3 separate regions of the Homo sapiens genome follow, and all the other regions are linked to region 1. The links come from fine-mapping of genetic effects on gene expression. A gene starts in region 1. Each other region holds a variant in brackets. All regions are shown on one strand. Distances are from middle to middle. Region 1 holds the start of WDR59 (WD repeat domain 59). Region 2 overlaps WDR59 (WD repeat domain 59). Region 3 overlaps ZNRF1 (zinc and ring finger 1).

Region 1 (5,958 bases):
TTTTGTATTTTTAGTAGAGACGGGGTTTCACCATGTTAGCCAGGATGGTCTTGATCTCCTGACCTCGTGATCCGCCCTCCTTGGCCTCCCAAAGTGCTGGATTACAGGCGTGAGCCACCGCACCTGGCCTACGGTGGGTTTCTAAAGAAAAAGAAGGGGCAGTTCCTAAAGTCTTTACTAAGAATTTACCTCAAAATAACATAAGCTACTGATTGGCTATACGTTGTTCTTTGTATCACAAATTCGAGAAACATGAAGATAATGGATGAGGTAGCCAGTCAGGAATGAAATGACTTTAATTTTAATTTTTTTTTAGAGACAGGGTTTTGTTCTGTCACCCAGGCTGGAGCACAGTGGCGCGATCATAGCTTTTTGCAGCCTCAACCTCCCAGACTCAAGCAGTCCTCTCACCTCACCTTCCCATGTAGTTGGGACTACAGATGCATGCCACCACGCCTGGCTAATTTTAATTTTTTTTTTTTTAGAGATGGGGTCTTGCCATGTTGTCCAGGCTGGTCTCGAACTCCTGGACTTAAATGATTCTGTCAAATAACAGGTGTGAGCAAACACGTCCAGCCTTTGCTCACACTCTTAATGGTGAAGTGTTTTTTTTTTTTTCATAGTGTACTGTATCAATATCTTAACATTATACTGAAAAGCTCAGATGTCGGGCCGGATGCAGTGGCTCACGCCTGTAATCCCAGCACTTTGGGAGGCCGAGGTGGGCAGATCACGAGGTCAGGAGATCAAGACCATCCTGGCTAACACGGTAAAACCCCATCTCTACTAAAAATACAAAAAATTAGCCGGATGTGGCAGCGTGCGCCTGTAGTCCCAGCTACTTGGGAGCTGAGGCAGGAGAATGGCGTGAACCCGGGAGGCGGATCTTGCAGTGATCCACCCACCACTGCACTCCAGCCTGGGCGACAGAAGGAGACTCCGTCTCAAAACAAAACAAAACAAAACAAAACAAAACAAAACAAAGCTCAGATGTCATATTCTTCAAGATTTCAAGATGCCATTTCGGGTCGCCTATTTAGGCTTTTCTCTCCTGCCATATTGCTTGCAAATCTATTATAATATACAAGTCATTCTGCCAAGCACATTCCTGTTGTAGAGTAACCAGTTGTCCCAGTTTGCCTGGAACTTATGGGTTTCTTGGGATGCAAGACTTTTTGGTGATGCAGTGCTAGAATATGAAAAGGGATCAGGCATGGTGGCTCACACCTATGGTCCCAGCTAATCCAGAGGCTGAGGCCGGAGGATCACTTGCTTGAAGCCACTACTTTGAAACCACCCTGGGCAACACAACGAGACCATCTCTACAAAAAGTAAAAAAAAAAAAAAAAAAAAATAGCTGGGCATAGTAGCACATGCCTGTAGTCCCAGTTACTTGGGAGGCTGAGGCAGGAGGATTGCTTGGGCCCAGGAGTTGGAGGCTGTGGTGAGCTATGCTCACACCACTGCACTCCAGCCTCAGTGACAGAACGAGACCCTTTCTCCAAAAAAATAAAAATAAAACATGAAACGGTCCAGGCAACAAGTTAGTCACCGTAATCTGTCAACAAGTCTGTCTTCCCCCTTATAGCCAATACTCCAGGAGGGAAGAGACCACACTTTCTTACCTCTATTCATACAATGACTTGCACATACAAATAGTGATAATATTAACAACAACAATAACAGTTTATTTTATTTTATTTTTATTGATTTCCTGGCTTCTAGAACTGAATTAATAGTTTATAGTTGAGCTTTTCTACATCCCAGGCCCTGTGCTTAGTTCCTTACAACAATCCAATGAGGTAAGCCATTTTTCCCTTCTATAGGGAAACTGAAGCTAAACCAGTTAAATCAACATTTAAGAGTGTGGGACTGAAAAGGAAACTTAATCACCACCCACCATGTTAGTACAGTGGTTCTCAAACTTTTTGATCTTGGAATCCCTTTACACTGCTGTTAAAAATTACTGAAAATCCCAAAAAAACTTTTTTTTTTTTTTTGACAAGGTCTTGCTCTGTCGCCCAGGCTGGAGTACAGTAATGTGATCCTAGCTTACTGCAGCCTCCTTCTGGGCTCAAGCCATCCGTCCACGTCAGCCTCCCAAAGTGCTGGGATTACAGGCATGAGCCACTGCGTCCGGCCCCCAAAAACTTTTATATGTAGTATACAGAATTTAAAAAATATATTCATTATTTCATTTAAACATTAAGGCCCTTCACATGAATACATTTTAAAATGAAAAAGAACAATATTTTCAAAAAAAAAAAAAAACAACAAAAAATTCTGGCAAATCTGTTTTAATGTTTGGTTTATCAGAAAACAGCGGCCGGGCGCGGTGGCTCACGCCTGTAATCCCAGCACTTTGGGAGGCCGAGACGGGCAGATCACGAGGTCAGAAGATCGAGACCATCCTGGCTAAAACGGTGAAACCCCGTCTCTACTAAAAATACAAAAAAATTAGCCGGGCGTAGTGGCGGGCGCCTGTAGTCCCAGCTACTCCGGAGGCTGAGTCAAGAGAATGGCGTGAAGCCAGGAGGCGGATCTTGCAGTGAGCCGAGATCGCGCCACTGCACTCCAGCCTGGGCGACTGAGCAAGACTCTGTCTCAAAAAAAAAAAAAAAAAAAAAAAAAGAAAAGGAAAGAAAGCAGCTGGATTGCAGGAGGGGGTATAGCTCACAGGTAGAGCATTGGACTACAGATCAAGAAAACAGCTGGATTCTCACATTTAAGTCTACCTTCATTGTTACGGGAGGCGCTGCTGTATTGTATGAAACAATAAATTGCACATTCAGACTTTTAAATATCTCGATGGGATAGGCATCAGGAGAAGAGGTATCTTCGGTTTGCACGAGCTTTGATTTTTCTTTTTTCTTTTTTTTTCCGAGACGGAGTCTCGCTCTTGTCACCCAGGCTGGAGTATAATGGCGTGATCTCGGCTCACTGCAATCTCCGCCTCCCGGGTTCAAGCGATTCTCCTGCCCCAGCCTCCCAAGTAGCTGGGATTACAGGCGCCCGCCACCCGGCTAATTTTTGTATTTTTAGTAGAGACGGGGTTTCACTATGTTGTTTAGGCTGGTCTCGAACTCCTGACTTCGGCCTCCCAAAGCGCTAGGATTACAGGCGTGAGTCACCGCACCCGCCCCGAACGTTGATTTTGATTTGAGACTGGGTCTGGACGAATGCTGGGGACTCCAGCGAGGAGCTAGTCAGGACAACAGGCACCTCACCTCACCCAAACCCAAACCTGCGAGCCCTTCCCAGGTCACCCACGCTTGCTCGAGCTTGGACTACAACTCCCGGCAGAGCTCGCGGCAGGGGGTGTGCCCGCAATCGCGAGGAGCGTGGGTGACTCAAACCAAGTGACGGAAGTGAGCGAGGGCGTGCCTGTTTGTTGCAGGCGCGGTGTAGCAATTGGAGGACCCAGGAAGAAGGGGCGGAGCCTATGCTTGGGTCAACCAATGGCTTGAGCTCAGGAGCAACCAGGGCACGGGGCGTGTCGGGGCTGATTCTCTGGCTGTGTGGGGCGCACGGTCCCGGGATACTGGGGACGGCGGGGTGGGAGGGCGCCGTCCTGGGGCCGCGGCGGCCGGGCGGGGGAGATGGCGGCGCGATGGAGCAGCGAAAACGTGGTTGTAGAGTTCCGTGACTCCCAGGTGAGCTAGAGGCCGAGTGGAGCCCTCTGGGCATGCGTCCTCCCCGCTTCCCCTCCCCCACGCGGCTGCTTCCGTCCCGGGGGGCTACGGGGAGACCCTAGGCCCCGTACTGAGGAGGTGGGCGGGGCTTAGCCGACCTCTTAGGCCCCGTCGGGGGAGGGAAGACGACCATCGGGGGCAATCGGGGCGAGCATGGACGGAGTTTCGGGGCTCCCTACGCGGGTAGGGGAGTGGGGTCCGCCTTGTGACACTGAGGCAGAGACTGCGCATCGTGAGTGCTGAGGGGAGGCTTCCCACAATCAGGGTACGGAGCGAGGGCGTGACGGCTTCCCGAGGCCCTAGCCGCGTGTGGCGACTTAAGGCAAGTCGCGGGACTTTTCTAAGTCTCAGCTGCGTGGACGTAACCCTGTTGGGGTGAATTCGATGAAACACTGTTTGCAAAGTGCCTGTTGCAGCGTCTACGCGGTTAAGTGGTTCTTAATGCCATCATACTGGAAAATACCGTGTAGTGGATAGGAGTGACACTGCACGTGTTGCCCGAGTTCGAATCCCGCAGCCCCTACCCTGTCATCACTCCGTACACGTCAGTTTTCTCACCTGTAGAAGGGAGATGGTCGTACTTACAAGATTGGCTTAAAGATTTTATTTTTTAATTTTCTATTTAATTTAATTTAATTTATTTTTTTTGAGATGGAGAGTCACTCTGTTGCCCAGGCTGGAGTGCAGTGGTGCCATCTTGGCTCACTGCAACCTCCGCCTCCGGGATTCAAGCAATTCTCCTGCCTCAGCCTCCCAAGTAGCTGGGATTACAGGTGCGCACCACCACGCCCGGCTAATTTTTGTATTTTTAGTAGAGACGGGGTTTCACCTTGTTGGTCAGGCTGGTCTTGAACTCCTGACCTCAGGTGATCCACCCACCTCAGCCTCCCAAAGTGCTGGGATTACAGGCGTGGGCCACCGTGCCTGGCCTATTTTACTTCATTTGAGACAGGGTCTGGCTCTGTCACCCAGGCTTGAGTGCAGAGGCGTGAATCACCGCTCAGTTCAGCTTCGACCTCCTGGGCTCAAGCTATCCTCCCACCTCAGCCTCCCCAGTAGCTGAGACTACAGGCGCATGCCAACACGCCCGACTAAATTTTTCATTTTTTTTTGTAGAGACGGGGTCTCCCTATGTTGTCCAGGCTGGTATGGAACTCCTGGGCTCAAGCGAACCCCCTGCCTCAGCGTCCCAAAGTGTTGGGATTACAGGTGTGATTCACTGAGCACAGCCTCGAGTGAAGATTTTATGTGGTTGTATGTTGAGGATGTGTGGCACACACAGCATTGGGATTTGGATGCTGGATCCTACCCCAGAGCCCTTGTTTAGCTCATTGGACTACTTTACTCATAGTGGGTAGCTCTGAACCGGTCATATACATCCCCTCTTCCCCAGCACCTAGGACAGTGTCTTGGTGATTCTCTTCAATTTTAAATTTATTTACCTTTTTTTTTGAGACAGAGTCTCACTCTATGACCCAGACTGTAGTGTAGTGGCATGATCTTGGTTCACTGCAACCTCTGCCTCCCAGGTTCAAACGATTCTTGTGCCTCAGCCTCCCGAGTAGCTGGGATTACAGGCACGTGCCACCATGCCTGGCTAAGTTTTGTATTTTTTGTAGAGACGGGGTTTCGCTCTGTTGGCCAGGCTGGTCTTGAACTCCTGGCCTCAAGTGATCCATCTGCCTTGGCCTCCTAAAGTGCTGGGATTACAGGTGTGAGCCACTACACCTGGCCTATTATTTTTTGTAGAGACAGAGTCTCTTTGTGTTGCCCAGGCTGGTCTTGAACCCCTGGCCTCAGGCGATTCTCCCACTTTGGCCTCCCAAAATATTGGGATTACAGGTGTGAGCGACTGTGCCTGGCCATTCTTTTCATTTATTCAACTAATATTTATCAAATACCTTCTGTGTGCCACACTTTTATTCACTCATTTATTCAACAAGGATTTACTGAGCTCCCTTCAGGTATACACTATACCATGCACAGGTGATTCATACTGAGGGAGATCTGGATAAGTATGAATGGGTGATGTGGTTTCTTCTTTCCAAAACCCCATCCTGTCTTTTGCCGGAGAATGAGTGAGTGGAGGAGCTACCCACCATTTTGCTCTGTGGTGCCCTCTGATCAGTAGCCTCTACTGAGAATTTGAGCAGTAGCATTTGGATTAAGGACCCCCAAGTACTGTCAGCACAGAGTCTCCGTGAGACCTGCTCTCCCTAGGGAGGCGCCAGACTCCTTGGAAAAGGAACCATATTCCTGTTTTCTT
Region 2 (5,958 bases), 74 kb after region 1:
GATCGACACCTTCTTGGCCAACATGGTAAAACCCCGTCTATACTAAAAATACAAAAATTAGCTGGTCATGGTGGCGTGCGCCTGTAGTCCCGGCTATTCACGAGGCTGAGGCAGGAGAATCGCTTGAACCCAGGAGGCAGAGCTTGCAGTGAGGCCGAGATCACACCACTACACTCCAGCCTGGCGACAGAGCAAGACTCCGTCTCGAAAAAAAAAAAAAAAATAGTCTGCTGTAAGTGGTTTTAGCCTCACTTTACAGCTGAGGAAACGGAGACATCAAGAGAAGAAATGTCCAAGGTCAGCAGCTATTTGGTGGAAGAAACAACATGTGAATCCAGGTCTCCAGATTTGCCACATGTGGTTCTTTTCTCTTTACTCCAGCTGCTGTCTCTAGTTGGCAACACAAGAAATGAAAAGATATAAAGGATTCTTTGCTTAATTAGTGATCTATATCAAGTCAGTTTATACTCCCTTTGTCCCATTTGAGGACAGTGTGGATACCTAGTGATCTAGTTTAAGATCTTGATTCCTTTCTTCGAGAGTACTTTAAAAAAATTATTGAGATATAATTCACACAGTATAAAGTTCATCTTTTTTTTTTTATTGAGATGGAGCCTTGCTCTGTCCGCTCAGACTGGAGTGCAGTGGTGCTACCGTGACTCACTGCAGGCTCTGCCTCTCGGGTTCACGCGATTCTCCTGCCTCAGCTTCCCAGATAGCTGGGATTATGGGCGCACGCCACCACGCTCAGCTAATTTTTTTTCGTATTTTTAGTAGAGATGGGGTTTTTGCCATGTTGGCCAGGTTGGCCTCGAACTCCTGATGTCAGTTGATCTGCCCACCTTGGCCTCCCAAAGTGCTGGGATTACAGGCGTGAGCCACTGTGCCCAGCCAAAATTCCGCTTTTTAAAGTATATAATCTGGCTGTTGTGGGTATATTCACAAAGTTGTACAGCCATTACCATTGTCTGATTCCAGAACATATTCATCATTCCCAGAAGAAACCCCATACCCATGAGCAGTCACTCCCTATTTCCCCTTCCCTCAGCCCGTGGCAATCCCGAATCTACTTTCTTCCCCTATGGATTTTCCCAGGAGCACTTTTTAAGTTGAGTCTGGTATTTAACTTCTTCCTGCTTTATTTTCCCATCTCAAAGTAAATATAACAAGTTTCAGTCTACCCCACAGCTTTGGGAGGGAGGAAGCTTTGTTAAAGTCAGAATACTTTGAACTTCGTGGTGGCTCATGCCTGTAATCCCAGCACTTTAGGAGGCCAAGGTGGGTGGATCACTGGAGGTCAGGAGTTTGAGACCAGCCTGGCCAACATGGCGAAACCCCATCTCTACCAAAACACAAAAAGCAAAACAACAACAACAACAACAAAACAAAGATTTGCTGGGCATGGTGGCCTGTAGTCCCAGTATTTGGGAGGTTGAGGTGGGAGAATCACTTGAACCCAGAAGGTGGAGGTTGCAGTGAGCTGAGATTGTGCCACACTGCACTCCAGCCTGGGTGACAAAGTGAGACCCTGTCTCAAAAAAAAAAAAAAAGAATACTTTGTGTTGGGAACAGGCCCCCTGAAATCTGGCCATAAACTGACCCTCTGTGTTGTTTGTCTTTGTGTAGTCTGCAGATGTGGATCTTGACTCCTGCAAGAAGTAGCTCACCGTGACAAAGCTGCCTTTGCTTTTATCACTTTGCAAATCAAAGAAGGGGGACATGTTGGGAACAGGCCCCCCCCCCCCCCAAAATCTAGCCATAAACTGGCCCCAAAACTGGCCATAAAGTCTCTGCAGCACTGTGACATGTTCATGATGGTGGTGATGCCCACGCTGGAAGGCTGTGGGTTTACCGGAATGAGGGCAAGGAACACCTGGCCCACCCAGGGCAGAAAACCGCTTAAACACGTTCTTAAACCACAAACAATAGCATAAGCAATCTGTGCCTTAAAGACATACTCCTGCTGCAGATAGCTAGCCACAGCCCATCCCTTTATTTCAGCCCATCCCTTTGTTTCCCATAAGGAATACTTTTAGTTAATCTATAATCTATAGAAACAATGCTTATCACTGGCTTGCTGTGGATAAATACATGGGTAAATCTTTGTTCAAGGCTCTCAGCTCTGAAGGCTGTGAGACCCCTGATTTCCCACTCCACACCTCTATATTTCTGTGTGTGTGTCTTTAATTCTTCTGGCACTGCTGGTTTAGGGTCACCCCGACCGAGCTGGTCTCAGCAACTTTGAGCTTATTCCATTGGTTTGAAAATTTTAAGAATCTGGTATGAAAATTTAAGAATCTTTTTGAAAATGAATTGTCTTCCACACACATTTGTCTTTGTAGACTCTTTCCCTTCATTCAATTACCAGGAACATGGAGCGTTCAGTTAAATGTGCTTGCATCGAAAGACGCTTTATGGTTTGTTTCTACAGCAATTGTGGATTTGTCTCTTGCAGATGGATGCGGCAGACAGGAGCTGCACAGTGTCTGTGCACTGCAGCAACCATCGTGTCAAGATGCTGGTGAAGTTCCCTGCACAGTACCCAAACAACGCCGCCCCTTCCTTCCAGTTTATTAACCCCACAACCATCACATCCACCATGAAAGCTAAGCTGCTGAAGGTGGGGGTCTGGGTTCCCAAATTCTCCTTGCTGTTCTGCATCATTGTCTAGATGGATTAGTAAAGAAGAATGAAAACTCCAGTAGATGAGATTCGGAAGTCATCTGTTTCGTACACACACTAGTATTAGCAACGTAACCTCTGAACTTGCCATTTACTTTGTGCAGAAAACATCAGAGCAGTGGTTCTTAACCTTTTTTGGGTCATAGACTTCCTTTGAATTCTAATGAAAATTATGGACCCTTCCTCAGAAAAATCTGCACAATGATTGCATATGATTTGAGAAATATTGCCTGTAAATATGTGAATTGCATAGAATCTGCCCACAGATCTCATTAATACTATGCATTCATCTCCGGTTAGGAGATTTGCAATCCAATTTCATTTAGCAGCCCAGGTTAGGAGCCCTGCAGTCCAATTTCATTTACCTGAAAACAACAAGCAAGATGTATTCTGAAGCTAAAAGATATTTTATAATTAGAAAAAAACATATGTAAGGTCATAAAAAAAATTTTATCCCATAGAAGGAGCTGGTGTTATCCTAGAGACAGGCTGGCTAGCTGCACAGTAGGTGTCCAGGTGGAGGCACCACAGCCTGGCATCTGTGTTTAATTCTGCAGATTCAGAGATTTAATGCATCAGTTCATCCAGAGCAAATCAGGTGGAATCTCCATGACAAAGCCCCATGAGCCTCTTCATACCCGTTCAGTCTGAGCAGTGTCACAAGTGAAGGGACTGAAGTATTCTGACAAACTCAGGCCAAGCTGAATGTTGCTCATTTTTTGTCCAGTTT[G/A]GGTCGTGGACACTTGATTGTTCCACCTTGTTGGGGGTATCACATGGAACCAGGAAATTTTCAAGTGGCTTAAGGATCTCTGAAATGCCAGTAACTCAGATCTTGTGGTATTTGACATGTTAAACTTGGAATCTGAATATGCCGTTGCCTAGTTTGGACATACAAAAAAGATAGATTTTTCTGTTAGTATAAAATGATACGATTAGGTTGCGAACTCTTTTGTGTGTGAAAAATCAGACCTTTTCCGGGTGCGGTGGCTCACTCCCGTAATCCCAGCACTTTGAGAGGCTGAGGCGGGTGGATCACCTGAGGTCAGGAGTTCAAGACCAGCCTGGGCAACATGGTGAAACCCCATGTCTACTAAAAATAGAAAAAGTAGCCAGGCGTGGTGGCGCATGCCTGTATTCCCAGCGACTCGGTAGGCTGAGGCAGGAGAATCACTTGAACCCAGGAGGTGGGGGTTGTAGTGAGCCAAGATCACGTGGCTGCACTCCAGTCTGGGCAACAGAGACTGCTGAGGCAGGAGAATGGCTTGAACCTGGGAGGCGGAGGCTGCAGTGAGCGGAGATCATGCCATTGCACTCCAGCCTGGGCAGTAAGAGCGACACTCCTCAAAAAAACAAAGGAAAAATCAGACCTTGGCGATGACTCAGCAGTAGGATATAAATAACTCCCACAAGCTTAGTGTTCCAATAATGGAACATTAGGCATAAATGGGTTTAAAGTGTTAGGATTTATACTTTTGAAGGACAAAAAATATACATTATAATTTTCACTGAAGTGAAATCCATGCCTCTTGTCACTGAGAGCAATTTCAATCCAGGCCAGTGAGTATTACTTCTAAGGTACTGACGTTTCTCATGGAGCAAGTGGTGTTGGGGGTGAGGAAAAGGGCAGAGTTCACTAGAAAGAAGTAATAGTCCTTCTGTTACTGAAAGCTGCCCTCTCAAAATCCACGTGTGCTGCCTTGATTAAGGAAAGAGCTTCTCTAGGAGGGCTCAGGAGTGAATCCTGTTTTAACCTCGGTAGAGGTAGAAATTAGATTATTACACTGTGTTGGAAGCCTTGACTTAACCATGCACCTGGCTCCCAGCATCACCCTTGTGTCTGACCACTTTGCAGAAGAAAAGCCAATCAGGGCCGGGCGCAGTGGCTCATGTCTGTAATCCCAGCACTTTGGGAGGCCGAGATGGGCAGATCACTTGAGGTCAGGAGTTCGAGACCAGCCTGGCCAACATGGTGAAACCCCTTCTCTACTAAAAATACAAAAATTAGCCAGGCATGGGGGTGGGCGCCTGTAGTCCCAGCTACTCGGGAGGCTGAGGCACAAGAATCACTTGAAGACGGGAGGCAGAGGTTGCAATGAGCCGAGATCGTACCACTACACTCCAGCCTGGGCAACAAAGAGAGACTTTGTCTCAAAAAAAAAAAAAAAACCTATCAGAGAAATGTGTTCCTCTTCTTGACTGTGTTTTGGGCCTTTTCTAGATCCTGAAGGACACAGCCCTGCAGAAAGTGAAGCGTGGCCAGAGCTGCCTGGAGCCCTGCCTGCGCCAGCTCGTCTCCTGCCTTGAGTCCTTTGTGGTGGGAAGCATGAAACTGTCATACCAACTTAGGCTTTGGTGTTTTGTTTCATTTCTTTCTCCCTAAAATCATGGGTTTTCTGGTTTTGTCATACTGGGTCTTTATTTTGTAGTTCAGCTTTAAGACAGGTTGTGGTTTTTAGCTTGTGGATTTTTAAATTTCAGAACCAGGAAGACAGCGCTTCCAGCAACCCGTTTGCACTCCCCAACTCTGTCACTCCCCCCTTACCGACGTTTGCGCGGGTGACCACGGCTTACGGGTCGTACCAGGACGCCAACATTCCCTTTCCTAGGACTTCTGGGGCCAGGTTCTGCGGAGCAGGTGGGTCTCTTTGGTTCTTTGATTCTAGATTTCGAGAGGGAGCAGCTAAGAATGTCATAGATTCTGTATAAACATCTTCATCAGAAAATGTTTGCTTTTACTCCCGAGAACTCAAACGAGACTTTCATGGTAGCGTGGTAGGGTCTGAGGCCCAGTCGGTGTCTGTGGACTTATCCTAAGAGGGTGCACCAGAATGGGGGTCTTAACTTTCTTCATTCTGATGAGCTTGGATTTGAGTCTTTACTCAGAGCCCTGATTCTTAGCAGGGGGCATTCGCCTGGTAGGGAGGCTTAGAGTCCTGCTGATGACTCTGCCCAGTCCACATACATCCTCTCTCCTGGATCCTGGAGCGCTGACCTTTGTTCCTGGTAAGGGTGACTGCAGTCAGGAGTCTTGCAGCTTATGAAAATGTGTCTTACCCTCAGGTGTACAGAGATAGAAGAAAGACTGGCCAGTCCTGCCTCAGGATTTCCCACGGCCAGCTTGTTGACACTGATGGCTCATGTGATGTCTCCTCCTTTAGGTTACCTGGTATATTTCACAAGGCCCATGACAATGCATCGGGCGGTGTCTCCCACAGAGCCTACTCCGAGGTGAGTCAGGGAGATGCAGAAGCCGCTCTACGTTCCCGGGGCCAGAAG
Region 3 (5,958 bases), 26 kb before region 1:
ATTTTGGCAAGGACACAGAACAAGCAAAAATATGTTATTTCAGGAGTGTAAACTGGTATAAGCACATTGGGGATTTACTGGGCAATATTTAATTATGAGTTGAAGATACACACACATGCACGCATGCACACATACACATACCCTGTAACCCCACTATTTCATGACTAAGGATGTACCCTAGAAAAACTCATTCACGTATGTAATGAAACAAAATTTTCAAAAACTAAAAATAACTTTAATATCCACTGATAACAGAATAGATCAATAGATCAATAAATAGATCAATAGAGTATAGCTGTGAAAATAAATGTGCTATAGCAATAAGTAGTAAAATGAATTTATATACTACCTCCATTTTGAGGTAGCATATATACACACACACACCTCATAATATCTTTCTCCTTCCATGTCTATACAGTTTACATGAAGTTTACAGAAAACAAATGGTGTTTTGGATAGCTACAGGGAGCAAAAGCATGAACATATATGGCGGGAAAAACACGAGTGAGGGCAGTCGTTCCCTTTGGAGAGGGAAAGAGAAAATGGGAATAAGCCAGGGTACATACAATTATACCTGTAATGTTTTAGTTATTATAATCTGCTTGGTAGGTGAGCATATTATCTTTCTTGAATGCCTAAAATATTTCATTTTTAAAAAAATAATTCCAGGCTAGGCGCGGCAGCTCACACCTCTAATCCCAGCACTTTGGGAAGATAAGGCGGGTGGATCATCTGAGGTCAGGAGTTCAAGACCGGCCTGGCCAACACGGTGAAACACGGCCTCTACTAAAAATACAAAAAATTAGTCGGGTGTGGTGGTGTTTGCCTGTAATCCCAACTACTCGGGAGGCTGAGGCAGGAGAATTACTTGAACCTGGGAGGCAGAGGTTGCAGTGAGCCAAAACCACACCACTGCCCCCTAGCCTGGGCGATACAGTGAGACTCCGTCTCGAAAAAAAAAATAAAATTAAATTAAAAATAAATAAATAAATAATTCCAAGACACCAAAGAGTTCCCATTTTCAGAGTCACACAGCTATTTGAGTTCCTGAAATGTACAAGTGAACCAAATTGAAATAGCACAAATCTCTGACTTTTCCATTTAGTAACCGCAGGACTAAAACTTCAGAGTTCATTACTAAAACTGAATGGACAGGCCTGGCGCGGTGGCTCACGCCTGTAATCCCAGCACTCTGGGAGGCCAAGGCGGGTGGATCACGAGGTCAACAGATTGAGACCATCCTGGCTAACATGGTAAAACCCCATCTCTCCTAAAAATACAAAAATTAGCTAGGCATGGTGGCATGCACCTGCAGTCCCAGCTACTCGGGAGGCTGAGGCAGAAGAATCGCTTGAACCCGGGAGGCAGAGGTTGCAGTGAGCTGAGATCACGCCACTGCACTCCAGCCTGGCGACAGAGTGAGACTCCATCTCGGAAAAAAAAAAAAAATTGAATGGACAGAAAAAGTAAGAGTCAGGGCTCCAGGCTGGAACTCATGATAAGACTTACCCTGTGGGCCCTCAAGTAAAGAGACAGAGAAGTAATTCTTACTCCTTTATAAAGGTGATCATCACTTTTCTCTGTGTTCTGAACTCCTTAGGCAAAAGATACTTTATAATTACTTGTATGCTGTCATATGAAAGTGTTGAACCTCTACTATATAACCTAAGAAAAATTGGTCCTTTCTGAACAGAGGTTCCTAATTGCTTTTTCCTTGTTTGAAGGAGTTAAAAGTCATTGTTGAAGGATGTATCTCTAATCCTACAGAACTGATGCCTTCAAGAAAACTCACTCCCACAATTCTCTCTCCTGGTTCCATGCCTGTGCCCTTTATTATGTTTTGCTGGCTCTTATGCATCAAATGCTCACTTCCTGTTTCCCCTTTATTGAGCTCTGGAGACCTGGAACCGGTAACAGGCTTTGAAGAAAAGTACAAAGCCAGGAAAACACAGAAGACAGGCCATGACTCTCCAAAGGAAAGCAAATCTTAACACATTTCTAATAACCGTTCAGCCCTTCCCGTCTGTAGCTTATGTAAGATAGTGGTTCAGACATGAGTCCCGAGAAACTGTAAATAATGAAGTTGAAAACAGCTAAAACTCACGCTAGGTTGGCAGAAAAGTTTAAGACAGGCAACTGAGATTTGATATCATAATTCTGGCTTGTTCTAAGCTCTCAGTATCCCTAAATGTTTCATTTTCACTATGCCACAAGGAGGCTGACTGGGTGGCGTCTCCTCTGGGCGCCACTCTAAATGCTTTAGACCTAAAATCTTAGAAGAGCACAGACGACCTTATATGAATCCACTTTTTGTAAAGTGTGCCATGATCAGTGCCAAGCACCAAGCTGACCATATGGAAAAGGGGGGCACAGACAGTAAGGAAATTCCCCATGACCTCTAGATTCTCATCATTAGGTCCACAGCCATCCTTTAATCCAGAAAGCTGATGTTCTGCCTATAAATGGCTTCTGGCTCTCTAACCCAAGGCCTCCTTCCATCTCATGATCCTTTTACACTACAACGGTGTTTTAATTGAAACTCCAGTCTCACTGGTCATGCTACTGCAGCAATTCACTGAGCACAGGCTTCTCTGTTCTATTCTGCTGTCCTGCACTTTGAATTCAGGGCTTGGTGTCAGCATGGAAAGCACCAGCGTTCTGATATGGCAGCCTTTGGTTATGTTCCCCTCAAGGGATTTATCATCCACAACCTACTCAAATCCCTCCCCCAACAGCTACCAAAAATTCCCCTGGTGAGAAATGCTATTATGAGAAGGGGTGGTGGCTGCTTTATGACTCACACTGTTTCATTAAAAAGATTTTTTTTTCAAACAAATTTTCAGTAGAGGAATCCAAAGGTTTTCCAAAGCCACAGCAAAACAGAACAGCTCATAATACTATTTCTCAAAGGTCTGCCACTTCATAGGAGATTCCTATACCTCAAAAAACTGGAGACATTTAGATTCACTATCCTTTTGTGCTGCCCTTGGCCTCTGGGTTGAGGAAGCAAGTAGGAAATGGATCAATTAAACACAGCCAACATGACTGGGCTCGTCAGATATTAAGATGGATGGCAGCTAGCTTGCAAGTCAGCCCTTATCACAGGTCTTAAGACTTGCTTATAGCTTTCCAGGGCACTGGCTGCAATGGCATGAATGTTTCAGTCATAGCTAACCAGAGTTGAGGAAATCTAATAATATAGGATGTACATGGGTATTTAGGAACACTTGTTATAGCAGCAGGCAGAGCTATAAAAAAGTGTCTTTGGCCAGGCATGGTGGCGTGTGCCCACAGTCCCAGCTACTCAGGAGGCTAGGGTAGGAGGATGTCTTAAGCCCAGGAGTTCATGTCCAGCCTGGGCAACATAGTGAGACCTTGTCTCTGAAAAAAAGTTTGTTTTTAGTTAAAAAATAAAAGTTTCTTCGAAAAGCTGACTTAAATGCTGTTATACTTTTGATATTAAATGGTTACACCATTTAGATCATTTACACAATCTAAATGGACTAGAA[C/T]AATATTACAGAAAACTAATTTGTTAGGTTGGAATCCCAAGGGCTCCCTCAAATCCTTGTAGGATTCCCAGAATACTCAGGCAGGCAGCAGGATAAAAGAATCTTAATGGCTCTCTCCAAAAAAGGCACCTTCTCCACAGGGAAAAGGTTATTTAAGATGGAAACAAAATGAAAAGATCTCCAAAAAGCTAAGAAGTATGTGCAAAATGACCACGTCAGATGAGGCCTGTGATCTTAGGTTCTCCTACCTCTGTTCCTGAATCCAGGTTAAAGCTTCTCCCAGCTGGGCATGGTGGCTCACGCCTGCAATCCCAGCACTCTGGGAGGCCAAGGTGGGCGGATCACTTGAGGTCAGGAGTTCAAGACCAGCCTGGCCAATTGGCGAAACCCCATCTCTACTAAAAGTACAAAATTAGCCGGCTGTGGTGGCACATGCCTGTAATTCCAGCTACTTGGGAGGCTGAAGCAAGAGAATTGCTTGAGCCCAGGAGGCAGAGGTTGCAGTGAGTGGAGATCATGCCACTGCACTCCAGCCTGGTGACAGAGCGAGACTCCTCAAAAAAAAAAAAACAAAAAAACAAAAAAAAACAGTACAGTACAGAGGTGACTAATTTCAGAACAACTCTTTATGAAGTATGGATTAATTACTTTTCAGAGGGCTCAAGCTACTACCAACAAGAAAGTTGGAGCACTCCTATGACAAGTCTGATTCACCAAGACCAAGATGAGAGACCATACATACCTAAATACGAAGTGAAATTTCTCCAAAAATTATCCTTCTGAAAGTAAGGCACTACCAACAGCCAAAGTACTCATAAAATCTCTTGGCATGAGACAATTCGTTAAATTCTTTATTTTGAGCAAAATGTACTCAAATATAACACAGATTTATTACTTATTCCCGAGGGGAATACATTACAGTCACTAGTGTTGGCTATCATAAACAAGGCTTTAAAAAGTTTCTTAAAACTGCACTAAAATCAACAACGAAAGAAAAAAGCAACCCAGGCCGGGTGTGGTGGCTCACACCTGTAATCCCTGCACTTTGGGAGGCTGAGGCGGGTGGATCACCTGAGGCCAGGAGTTCGAGACCAGCCTGGCCAATATGGTGAAACCTTGTCTCTACTAAAAATACAAAAATTAGCAGGGCATGATGGTAGGCGCCTATAATCCCAGCTACTCTGGAGGCTGAGGCAGGAGAATCGCTTGAACCCGGGGGGCAGAGGTTGTAGTGAGCTGAGACTGAACCACTGCACTTCAGCCTGGGCAACAGGGCAAAACTCCGTATCAAAAGAAAAGAAAAGAGGCAACCTGATTCAAACATGGACATATAAATAGATTATTTCTCCAAAAAAGATATACAAATGGCCAATAAACACATGAAAAGATGCTCAATATCACTAATTCATTAGAGAAATGCAAATGAATACTATGGGATACTACCTCACATCCATTAAGATGGCTACTATTAAAAAAAAAAACAGAAAATAACAAGTATTGGCAAGGATGTGGAGAAACTGGAAGCCTGTGCACTGTTGGTAGGAATATAAAATGGTGCAGCTACTGTGGAAAACAGTATGGTGGTTCCTCAAAAAATTAAAAATAGAATCACCAAATGATGGAGCAATTCCACTTCTGGGTATATTCTCAAAAGGAGTGAAAGCAGGGTCTTGAAGAGATATTAAGAAATTCACATTTCTAACAATGAATTACAGCTATTTACAATAGCTAAAATATGGAAGCAACCCAAGCGTCCAGCAACAGATGAATGGAAAAGTAAAACGTGGTAGACAGACAATGGAATACGATTCAACCTTTAAAAGAAAGGAAATTCTGAAATATGCTACAATGCAGATGAACCTTGAGGACACTACGCTAAGTGAAATAGGACAGCCACAAAAAGACAAATACTGTACGAGTCCACTTACATGCAGTACTTAGAATACCACTGAACTGTACACTTAAAAACGGTTAAGATAGTAAATTTTGTTACATATATTTTATGACAGTTAAAAAAACAAAACAAAACTGGGGAGGTGGGGGAGAGGGGAGCCAGCACAGAAGTGTAGATGTTGTGAAGTTCAGAGACATAGACTTATAATACCAAGGATGAAATTTCCTTATGGGTATTTGTGGCTTGGGATAAATTTTACAGAGACAGATTTAAAAAGTGGTGAATCATGCTTCTAGAAAATAGTGTTCAATGACCAGAAAGAAAAGTGGCTCTAGGGATGACAAAGATACTGAAATTAAAGATGCACATGAAGAGTCTGAAAATCAGTTTTTCTTTTGATATTCTCACTGAGAGGACAGAGGACCCCTCATACTGAGACATACGAGGAATTTCTTGGTAGGTACTTAGCTGGAATCACAAAGAAAAGATCACCTGCCCCAACCCAGAAATAGGGCTTTGGAAAAAAATGAGTGAAGAGAAGTATATCCTTGCAGC

The links.
Region 2: its variant is fine-mapped to the expression of WDR59 in whole blood (TOPMed, PIP above 0.99).
Region 3: its variant is fine-mapped to the expression of WDR59 in whole blood (INTERVAL, PIP 0.91).

What each region holds. Positions count from the first base shown.
Region 1 is chr16:74,982,659-74,988,616 of GRCh38, reverse strand. It overlaps WDR59 (WD repeat domain 59), which reads left to right and starts at 3,494. Exons shown (of 26, transcript NM_030581.4): 1 at 3,494-3,653. The coding sequence starts at 3,600. RefSeq lists silencers at 2,203-2,403, 3,439-3,748 and an enhancer at 3,049-3,108.
Region 2 is chr16:74,908,860-74,914,817 of GRCh38, reverse strand. WDR59 (WD repeat domain 59) reads left to right here. Exons shown (of 26, transcript NM_030581.4): 14 at 2,456-2,620; 15 at 4,901-4,996; 16 at 5,161-5,317; 17 at 5,841-5,910. Among named protein-coding and RNA genes, the nearest start is that of WDR59, 73 kb to the left of the region's middle. The variant G/A (reference allele first, on the strand shown) is at 3,413.
Region 3 is chr16:75,008,841-75,014,798 of GRCh38, reverse strand. The region is part of intron 1 of ZNRF1 (zinc and ring finger 1); the gene reads right to left. Among named protein-coding and RNA genes, the nearest start is that of ZNRF1, 13 kb to the right of the region's middle. RefSeq lists enhancers at 2,470-2,559, 2,870-2,979. The variant C/T (reference allele first, on the strand shown) is at 3,510.